Regions from separate parts of the Homo sapiens genome. Here region 1 is linked to region 2. The links come from fine-mapping of genetic effects on plasma protein levels. A gene starts in region 2. The other region holds a variant in brackets. All regions are shown on one strand. Distances are from middle to middle.

Region 1 (5,388 bases), 11 kb before region 2:
TCAACAACTTTTATTGAACATGTAGAGAGAGAAGGGGAGGTTATTAACTCTCCTGCTCGTACTGGGATAAATGAAGAAGAAGGCATAAGGACAATAAACATGGAACTCCACTGCAAATGGATTTTATGCAGCTGAGGAAAGTTTGGGCTTATTAGTATTTGCTCCAGCGAACCTCCAAGTTTTCTCCATTGCGGACAACGTAACTACCAGCTCCTGAAAAGGAAGAAGAAAGAGAACTGGGTCAAATGATTTGGCCACTAAATCACCAAATAATGGATGTCATCTCTACTAACCCCTTGGCCCAATCCCCACAGAGGCTCACACCCCTCTCCATTTGGGCATTTTTAGCATGGGTCTTTTTGGCATGTCTCTCCCTTACCTTGGCTCAGTGGTTCGCCTCCACTCAGAAGTTCCCAGTAGGTTCTGTCATTATTGTTGGCACATAGGCCCTGAATACAGGTGATATAGGGCCCCCATGAGCGCTCCTCCATTGTGAAACTGTGGGTGACAGCAAGTAGGTTACTGGAACTTAGAATTGTCAAAGGAAACCAACAATAGGCATTTCTCAAACTTTAATGTACCTGAGAATCACTTGATGACATTATAAAAATGCAGATTTCCTGGCCCTATCCATAGATATTTTTATTTTTAGATATGAGCTGGGGATCAGGAATCTGCATGCTTTATAAACACTCCAGCTGATTCTAATGCAGGCACTCCACACTCCATGCTAAATTAGAGAAATGATGCTCATGGTTTCTGCTCTCCCCACCTGCCATGGTAGATAGGTTTCAGATAACAGCTTCAACCTTCCACCCCAAGATAGTAACTGCTAAAGATACTGATTCAGTAGAAGAACATATGATCCTCATGTGCTAGAGACACCATAAGTTACTGAGTTTTCCCTTAGAAAAGAGGAACAGGAAAGGATAATTTGATATTTCATATTGTGTTTATTAAAAAGTGACAGGTCAGTATCTGTTTTATATTCCGTAGTCATTTTTCTACCTCCCTTAAAGCCCTTGAGGGTAGCCTTTATAATGTATATTATATTATTATTCTGATTTTCTTTATAGCATCCTACACTGTGTTGTTAGATATGATAAATAACTGTCAACTAGAGTTAAGGAGCCAAATAAGTCATACTTTTCAGAGGCAAAGCCATTATTTTAATTTTAATACTTGACCTCCTTGACCAGTTACTTTAGTTTGGGGATCTATGAGTTTTCTGAAAGCGAGGGCAGGGAGAAGCTTCAGGGTATCTGTGAAACCCTCAGTTGAAATGCTAAATTTGGCAGTGGCTCATGCCTGTAATCCCAGCACTTTGGGAGGCTGAGGTGGGCAGATCTCTTGAGCCCAGGAATTCAAGACCAGCCTGTGCAACATAGTAAGATGCTGTCTGTAAAATAAATAAATAAACAAATGCCAATTTTTGTGTGTATGTTCATTTTTTTCCTGGATGAACATTCATTACATTCACTTGATTTTCAAAGGGGTCCGTGATTCAAAAAGAGTTAAGAACCACTGTTCTAGATCTCAAATGTTTGACTTTAGAAGTTACATTTATTGCAAGAATTTTACTGAAATAAGAGAGAGCCCTGAGATTCATTAATTTATTTAGCGAACATTAATTTACTACCTATTATGTGCAAGAAGATGAAATACCTCACCTCCTATTTTAAACTCCTGCTGTGAGATGTAGATGGACAGCAAAGCTACTGACCCAGAAGCATTTTAAATATACTTTGTATTTAGGTGCAAATGCATTCTTACTGCATCTTTAGAAATGACAGCAAACATCTTAACCTTAGGTTAGGTACAGACCTACCCAAATATAGTATCATTCATTTTCTGGGCTTTCTCCATCACACTGAGGAAGACAGAACCATTTAGCACAGTGACATTGGTGAAATATGTTTCATTGATTCTCACAGAGTAATTGACGGAGATATATGATTGTGAGTCAGGAGGTGTCACAGTTATAGGCTCATCAGCGGAGATGTTGAAGTTACCTGGCAGAGACAGAAAAGCCCAGAGCAATATTCAGAAAAATAAAAATGATATTAGAGTTTGCAGACCTACTCAACCCCTATCCAAGGACTCCTTGCCTTTATGCAGACACGGATTTACTATAAGGAGCAATTATCATCACTCAAGGGGCAAATTTCTCATATAACTAAAGCAGAAACTAAGACCCAAACTCACCAGCTTGTGAATGTTGGCACTTGGCTCAACTCCCAGCTGTTTAAGCAATTCAGTTGCTCTAACTTCTGTTTCTCACAGAGGATCCTGATTTTTTTTTTCTTTTTTTGCCTTGGTACAGCATACAATAATGCTTGTCTTTTCTCCTTTTTATTGCTTAACGTTTATTGAAAACATATGAATTGCCAGGCACTATACTAATCATTTTACATGGATTGTCTCATTCAATCTTTACAAAAACCTATGTTAGGTACTGTCCTTGTTCCCAACTTTTACATTAGAAAACTGAAGCTTAGAGGTTAAACATTTTGTCCAAGTTTCCTAAACCTGTGAGTGGCTGAACCAGGAATGGACAGAGATATAAGACAATGTCTCCTTTCCTTCTACCTGGTTGCAAGGTCATTTTTTGAATAAGTAATGCATGCTACAATTTTTGAATACTGGCATATCACTTCCACACAGATGTCTCATTTCCCTAAGGGATCACTCACTGTGCAAAGTCAGAGTCACGGTACCAATACTCCATACTTTATTTAGGATGAGAATGATGCTCAGATCCTTCTATATCCAACAGTCAGAAAATACACCTTTGGAGATAGACATTATTTAATCAGGTCTGCCTTGTTAATGTTTGAACTAAGAGGGACATCTAGCACTCAGTTAAGAACAAATCCTCAGGTGACTGTAAACCCTGGTAACATGAGGAAAACTGAATTCTCTCTGGCAACTGTTATGTTTTGGAGGTTTATCTGGTCACTTTTGGTTTCAAAGGACACCTGAATCTCACATGCTTTGGGTGCTATGGTGAAAAGCGAAACAGTGTGCTCTCTTTAATGCTTATACCTGAAGCAGAGACGCAAGAAGAGTCTTTGTTAATAT[C/A]CAAGAAGGTCTTTCCCATCAGGGCAGGTAAGACCTGGGCTGCAGCGTTTGGATTGCTGAATGCTCCTTGAGAAATTTCCGTGAGCACTGTATTCAGAGTTTGTTGGCAATTCCAGTCATTTTCATTATAATAGTCTGATGATACAAAGAGGGCCTAATGAGGCAGGGTGGGGTGGGGGGGTGATGAGAGATAAAGAGAGACAGAGAGAGAATATGAGACACTTCAAATAAGGGGGAAGCCTTATCTATAACTATATATGTAACTAATTCAGTATTAATTGAACATTGACTACCTAGGAAGCACCTCAGATAACTCAGTTATCTTTCTTGTTATCCAGAAGCTTATAAACTAGTTTGGGCAGGGAGGTTGGAACTGCTTAATAACACAAGCTATAATAGTTCCAATGAAGGCAGACTTTGCCACATTCATTTCTGTATCCCAGTGCTGGGAAATACCTGTCATATAGGAGACACTCAATAAATATTAACAAACTACTGTAAAAGGAGTTGCCAGAGGAATGCCCTAAGGGATGCATCTAGTGGGATGCCTCTTTCAAAAGAGGAGAGGAGCTCACAAACATTTAATGAAGCTAAAAAAAAAAAAGCTTCCTGGAGAAGGTGGTATTTGAGTTAGGCCTTGGAGAGTAGGATAGAGCACTCAAGAGGAACAACATGAACAAAGGTGTTAGGTAGGAATGGCCAGGACATGACCTGGCAATGATGACAGTATCTGCATTTTAGCAAAGTTCCTCAGGGGATTCCTCCTGGTTTAGGAGAACTGATGTATGGGGAACATTGGAGGCAACTGTGGAAAAACAGGCTGGAGAAGGAAGTTGGGCTAGACTAGTAGATGCTTGAATTTTATGATGAGATGTCTGACCTCATTTGATTGACAACGATGAGGAGGTGTCTGACATTATTTGATTGACAATGGGGAGTCTAATTGTTCATTAAACAGAAACTCTCCTGGCAGCAGAATGTAAGCTTGATTGAAGGGGCAGAATTGTGAGGTAGTAAAAGTTAGGAGGGCATTGGGGTAAGCAAGACAGGAACTAAGGTGGGTCGGACTTGAACATGCTGCTCTGTAGTTTCCCAGGGATGGACAGTTCCTGTTTTCATCTTTTCTTGGAGGTTCTTAAGCTAACCAAGTTGTCCACAAGCATTTGTGGGATATTAAGAAAAAAGAAAAACTGGTCATAGTACATTTCCTCTTAAGACACGTCAATAAATGTTATTCACATACATAACAATAAATTAAATGTTATTAATATTTAAAAATACCCAACAATGTGTTGTAGGCAATTAGCTCTTGATCCTACTGTGAATTTGTATCACCTGTAGGGCTTTTAAACCAGAGCAAGGCCCAGGCTCCACCTCTAAATTTCTGTACTACCTGGCTGGTGTGGGCCTGGGTATTAGTGTTTTCTAAGAGCTCCTTCAGGTGATTCAAATATGCAATGAAAATGGGAAAGCAGTTTATATTCAGTTCAAACTTAGTAAGGCAATCAACAACATAAATAGTAACAACAACAATACAGATAACCTTATGACTGGACCCGTGCTTACACCTCCAGCCTCCTGTTATGTTTCCCAAGGACTCTGTGCTGGTCATGCCGAACACCTTGACCTTAAAATGCCTAACATTCTTTTGTGCTTTTGGGTCTTTGTCCTCACTGTCGTCTCTCCCTTGAAAGTCCTCTAGCCCTGAGTCAGCCTGGAAAATATCTATTCATACTGATGATGCAGTAAAGTTTTTTTTTTTTCTGTAAACCTTCCTTGATCGCTTCTTATATCATCCCCTTAGAGTTTGTAAATCAATGGCTGAATGAATGCAGGAATAAAGTCTCAGACCTCAAAGAGCATATGCACGACAGTGTAGGTGCTGAGTGTGAGTTTTGAGAACAACAGCCCAGGTCCCATCCCAATCTACACCACTTTCTGGTTTTGTGAGATTAGTTAGATTACTGACACAGTTACTGTGACTCATGCTCCTAGTTTAGGAAATGGAGGTGATGGGGTAGTTTGCTCTTATCAGCGGGGGATACATTCCAAGACCTACAGTGGATGCCTGAAACCATGGATAGTACTGAGCCTTAAATATACTATGTTTTTTCCCTATACATCCACTCCTATAATAAAGTTCAGTTTATAAATTAGGCACAGTAGGAGATTAACAACAGCAATAATCAAATAGAACAATTATAATAATATATTACAGCACCATTGCTCTTGTGCTTTGGGGCCATTATTAAGTAAATACGGGTTACTTGAACACATGCACTTCAATGTTGGGACAGTTGATCTGAT
Region 2 (5,388 bases):
CATCACCAGCTTTCTTAGTTATGATCTGTATTCCCATGTGGTTGTGAACTAAGCTAGCTTATATAACAGCATTAATGGATAAAAATCCATAGCTTTTGTTTGTGGCTTCTTGAAGAAAAGTGGTTTTTAAGACCAAAAGAAGCAAGACCTAGCTCTAGGGTGAATGGCATGGGATTGTATTTTGGGCATGTTTCTGTTACCTCAAGTTTGGTACCATTAGAAGGGATGTAGCAGGGATACTTTGGATGCATAATTTTTTAGGATTAGTTGCAGATAATCTTTAAATAGGTAGATTTTTTTCTAAATCTTCCAGAATATACAGCAACTTACATCTGCTTTTCACATTGTATTTGATTTGTTGGATCATCTTTTGCATCAGGGTTTGGATCTGGATTCCAACAAGTTTGAGGGACAACACAACATTGACAGCGCTGGTTCCCCTGTTATAGTTTGACTGGATCATTGTATTCAACAGAGGTTTTAGGCGGATGTAGTTTTCTTCACTTACCTCTGTGGCAGAGAAGGAAGGAAATAAGAAACACATACTCAGAAAATAGTAAGACTTGCAGCAGGGGTTATATAAAAATATTTAGTAACAGATATGGCACAGACCTAGACCAATCCAGTGGCTGCAGACTGTGTTGGTGGAATAATACAAAGGTGGGTCTTGAACCCACCCCCATGCCAGACATTACTCCTTTAACAACCAACATGAAAATGTTTTAATATTTTAACAACTGGTGCAGACTTATCATTGTGTACTGGCAGACTCCTGCCTGGGAAATCTAGCATCATTCCCTAATTTTGTATATGAAGCTTAGATAGATTGTCCTTAAAGAAACTTCCATAATTGGAGGCTGAGCTGAAACTAGACTACATGTCTTCTGACTCTCAGTAAGCAGGACTTTCTACTTCCTGGATTCAGTTCTTTCCTTCTCCATCTTCTAAATCAACTGGGTTAATGTTGAGAAAATGCAGGTAATAATTCTGTGTTATACTGGTGATTGACCCCAAAACTTCATTGTCTGATTACCCAGCTGGCTGGGCATCGAGATCATTATTTAGCATTATGCAGCCTGTAAAAAACTCTCCAGTTTTAGCCTACAATATGCCCCAATTCCAGAGATGGAGGGAAGTCACATTATACTGTGGAAGTAGGAAAATCCATAGCTCCCAAGGAAATAGAGGAGAATAAAAAGATTTACTATTTATTTAAACACAGGACACTTTGTCAATGTATTTTTCCATAATCTTGAGGAGTAGCCCCAAATCCTACATATCTCCAGATTATCTAATGGATTAGTGGGAGAGTGAGAAGAACATGAGGTTTGGATTCAGATTTTGGCCACATTTTGTGCTCCTTAACTTATGACTGTGGATAATAACTTATGTAACTTGTTTTACTCTTAGTTTTCTCATTTAAAAATTGTGGCTGTTAACACTTACCTTACAGATATTGGACAAGAAACCACCGAATAAACTGTAAAATGCTGCACATACTATTATTTCCAGCTCAACTGGAGTTTTTATCACTATACTTGAGAATCAAGGAAATGTAATTTCTCTTGCCCAGTTTTCTTTACTTTAAAAGAATGAGTCAAGAAGATCTGAATAGAGTGATTGTAGAAAGGTCATGGTTTGTTGCAGACACAATGGAACAATTGTGAGTCAGTTCTCTGAGATTTTGTGGAACCATCCAGCTCAGCAGATTTTCTGGCCCTGAAACAGACTTTTTAGTTCCTGATCAACAACTCAAATCAGCTTCCTTGAGTCTCAAAGATAAATTTAATTATTATCATTATTATTTAAAATGAATTGAAAGCTAAAACCTACATAGCCATTCCCTATTCTTAGGATCCAACAGGGGAAATGTCAAGCCAAGAAGAAAAATCAGAGTCAGAAGAGTCTATGCTTTAGCCTGTATGTATACAAGCCTGTCTTCTGTGGTGTTCTCTTCTTACTGGTTAGAGAGCACAGATAGTACCACCTAGTAATCTTTGGACTGGTTTGAAGCTCAATTTCAGAGTAAAGTCTCACAAAAGAGAATTCATGCACTTGAGAACTGCACCAGACTTCATGAGATAATTTGCTTCAATAGTCTCCCCTCATTATCCTTTATTTATGAATGAAGCTAAAGAAATTCAGAAATGTTGGGTCATTCAATAACTAAGGGATCAAACTAAACCTGAATTTAGTTTTCCCTTCTCTTACTTTAAAGTTCTTTTACAGAACCACACAATCTCTGGGGTCAACACCCATGCAAGAGATGATGGAACTTTATCCCATGTGTCCTGGGAAAGAGTTGAAGGAAGGTGGACATGCAACTTGGAACATCTAAACTCACTCATGACAAGACAGCAGTCATCACTATTTGAAAGAGATTATTATTTTTTTCTATGTAGTTACAAGGGGTTAACCCAAAAATCATGCATTGAATTTCAGGGAAAAAAGATTGCATATCAAGACCAAAAGATAACTTTCCATGATCTAGAAAAGTTTCTGGGAGCATAAATTTTCTGTCATTGAAAAGTCACATGAATAGGGAGTTACTTGGTAGGGATGCTGTGCTAGAGAGGATCTGAGCATAGAAAGAGCAGTTAGGCAAGTGAATACACAATCTATAATTCCTCTTACAACAACATGCATTGTGAGACTTTCCTCACCATCTCCTGCCACCCTTTTCATCATTCATGGAGTCCAACCACATACGAAACTGGAATGGGATCTTTTCTCAGGTAACTCTACATAGAGTCTCTTGTCAACAGTTTTCAGTAGACTATCACTCTAGAGTAATTTTAGCTCAAAGTTTACTCACCACAAATCTCGCATAGTTGGCTTGGAATAAAAGAAAACAGTAAGAGCCCCACTAGGGGCAGCTGGTGTGACTGTCTCATCTCTCCAACAGTGTACCAGAATGTTGATGAATTGGCTGGCTATTTATTAAGTGATGGGCAGAAGGTAATGAGAGCTCCTCCTTCAGGTTGCCTCAGCCTCTTTTCACTCAAGCAAATATTGAGCAATGTCAGGAGGTGTGGTCAAGTGTATTTGTCCATGTGATGTAATAAATAAGGAAGAAGACTTGAAGGATGTGGTTAGGGAGAATAAGGCAATAACTTTCCTTTGTCTCCTGTCCTAAACCTTCGGGTTTCATATCTATTATTTGCCTTCCGTGCAGTGAAGATATATTAGGCAAATGACTGTTTCCTATAATCTTTCCTTTTTTTTCCGTTTCACTTTATGTTTTATGTTTCCTGATAAAGTAGATTTGATCATGCAAACACATACAACATATAAAAATGGAAGTAAAAGAAGACATCCAAATGGGAAGCAGGCATATGAAAAAGTGCTTGAAAAGGTGCTTAACATCATTGATCATCAGATAAATGGAAATCAAAGCTACAATGAGATATCCTCTCATCTCAGCTAAAAATGGCTTTATTCAAAACACAGGCAATAACAAATGCTGGCACGGATGTAGAGAAAAGGGAAGCCTTGTACACTGTTGGTGGGAATGTAAATTAGTACAATCACTATGGAGAACAGTTTGGAGCTTCCTCAAAAAACTAAACATAGAGCTACCATATGATCCAGCAATCCCACTGCTGGCTATATACCCAAAAGAAAGAAGACCAGTATATTGAAGAGATATCTGCACTCCCATGTTTGTTGCAGCACTGTTTACAATAACCAAGATTTGGAAGCAAGCTAAGTGTCTATCAACAGATAAATGAACACAGCAAATGTACATATACACAATGGAGTACTATTCAGCCATATAAAAGAATGAAATCCTGTCAGTTGTGACAAAATGGATGGAACTGGAGATAATTATGTTAAGTGAAATAAGCCAGGCACAGAAAGACATACATTGCATGTTCTCACTTATTTGTGGGATCTAAAAATCAAAACAATTGAATTCATAGAGATAGAGAATGAAAAGATGGTTACTGGGGGCTGGGAAGGCTAGTGGTGGGAAGGAGATGCGGAGGGTTAATGGGTACAAAATATTGGAAAGAATGAATAAGACCTACTATTGGTAGCATAACAGGGTGACTATAGTCAATAATAATTTAATTGTACATTTTAAATAACTAATAGTATAACTGGATTGTTTGTAACGTAAAGGATAAATGCTTGACAGGATGAATACCCCCTTCTCTATGATGTGATTATTACGCATTGCATGCCTGTATCAAAACATTTCATGAGCCCCATAAATATATACACCTACTATGTACCTACAAAAATTGAAATAAAAAAATTTAAAAACGGAAGTAAAAGTTGTAAGTCTGAAATTGAAGCAGGCAGTATTGGAGAACCCAGCACATGAGGGGATCTTTGGCATAGTGGTTTCCAAACTATGATTTTTCTCCTAAGATAGATTCCATGAGAGTTTCCTAACCAAGGAGGAAAACCAGAGAGCTATACATCAAATGTGAATTTCTGCCCTGCCAGGGCAGTTGCTACATGTGAGAAGTGTTGCCTATCACAGTTCTTCTGAGAACTATTAGAGAATACTGTCAGCCTAGCTAAGGATGTCATGACTTAATGAGCCACTATTTGCATTGTACCTCTGTGATGGTTAATTTTCTGTGTCAACTTGACTGGCACCTGAGTGCCCAGATTAAACACTATTTCTCGATGTATCTGTGAGGGTGTTTCCAGATAGGATTAGCATTTTAATTGGTGGACTCTGGAAAGTAGAATGCCGTCTCCAATGTAGGTGTGCATCAATCAATCTATTGAGACCCTGAATAGAATAAAATGGTGAAGGAAGGGGGAATTCACCCTTTTTTTGCTTCCTGCCAGCCTGTTTGAGCTAGGACATCTTATCTTCTCCAGCCCTCAAACTGAGATTTACACCATCGGCTCCCCTGGTTCTTGGGCTTTCAGTTTGGCCTGAATCACTCCACTGACTTTTACTGCATGCAGACAGTAGACTGTGGGACTTCTTAGCCTCCATAAGGGCATGAATCAACTCCTTGGAATAAATCTCTTTCTCTCTCTCACATATTTATATAAAACTTATGTGGAAACCACCATTCTACTCTCTGTTTCCATGTATTTGATAATTTTTAGAATCTACATATAAATGAGATCATAGTATTTGTCTGTGACTTATTTCATTTAGCATGATATTCTTCAGGTTCATCCATGCTGTCTCAAAGGGCACTATTTCCTTCTTTTTTATGGCTGAATACTATTCTATTATATAAATATAAATATATATATACACACACACACATATATGTGTGTGTGTATATAAATCACAATTTTTATCCCTTCATCCATCAACAGATATGTAGGTTGTTTCTATGTCTTTGATATTGTGAATAATGCTGCAATGAACATGGGAGTACATATTTTATATAATATATATTTTTGTTT

What was found. PIP is the chance, under the fine-mapping model, that this variant and not a neighbour inherited with it causes the effect. Protein levels are from the aptamer-based SomaScan assay of Sun 2018.
Region 1: its variant is fine-mapped to the plasma level of the TCN1 protein (Sun 2018, PIP 0.95). The variant lies in the coding sequence of TCN1. If it changes the protein, the assay may bind it differently, which can mimic a change of level.

What each region holds. Positions count from the first base shown.
Region 1 is chr11:59,852,824-59,858,211 of GRCh38, forward strand. It overlaps TCN1 (transcobalamin 1), which reads right to left. Exons shown (of 9, transcript NM_001062.4): 6 at 3,046-3,235; 7 at 1,829-2,012; 8 at 380-498; 9 at 1-213. The coding sequence ends at 152. Among named protein-coding and RNA genes, the nearest start is that of CBLIF, 10 kb to the left of the region's middle. The variant C/A (reference allele first, on the strand shown) is at 3,082.
Region 2 is chr11:59,863,577-59,868,964 of GRCh38, forward strand. It overlaps TCN1 (transcobalamin 1), which reads right to left and starts at 2,911. Exons shown (of 9, transcript NM_001062.4): 1 at 2,816-2,911; 2 at 331-510. The coding sequence starts at 2,894.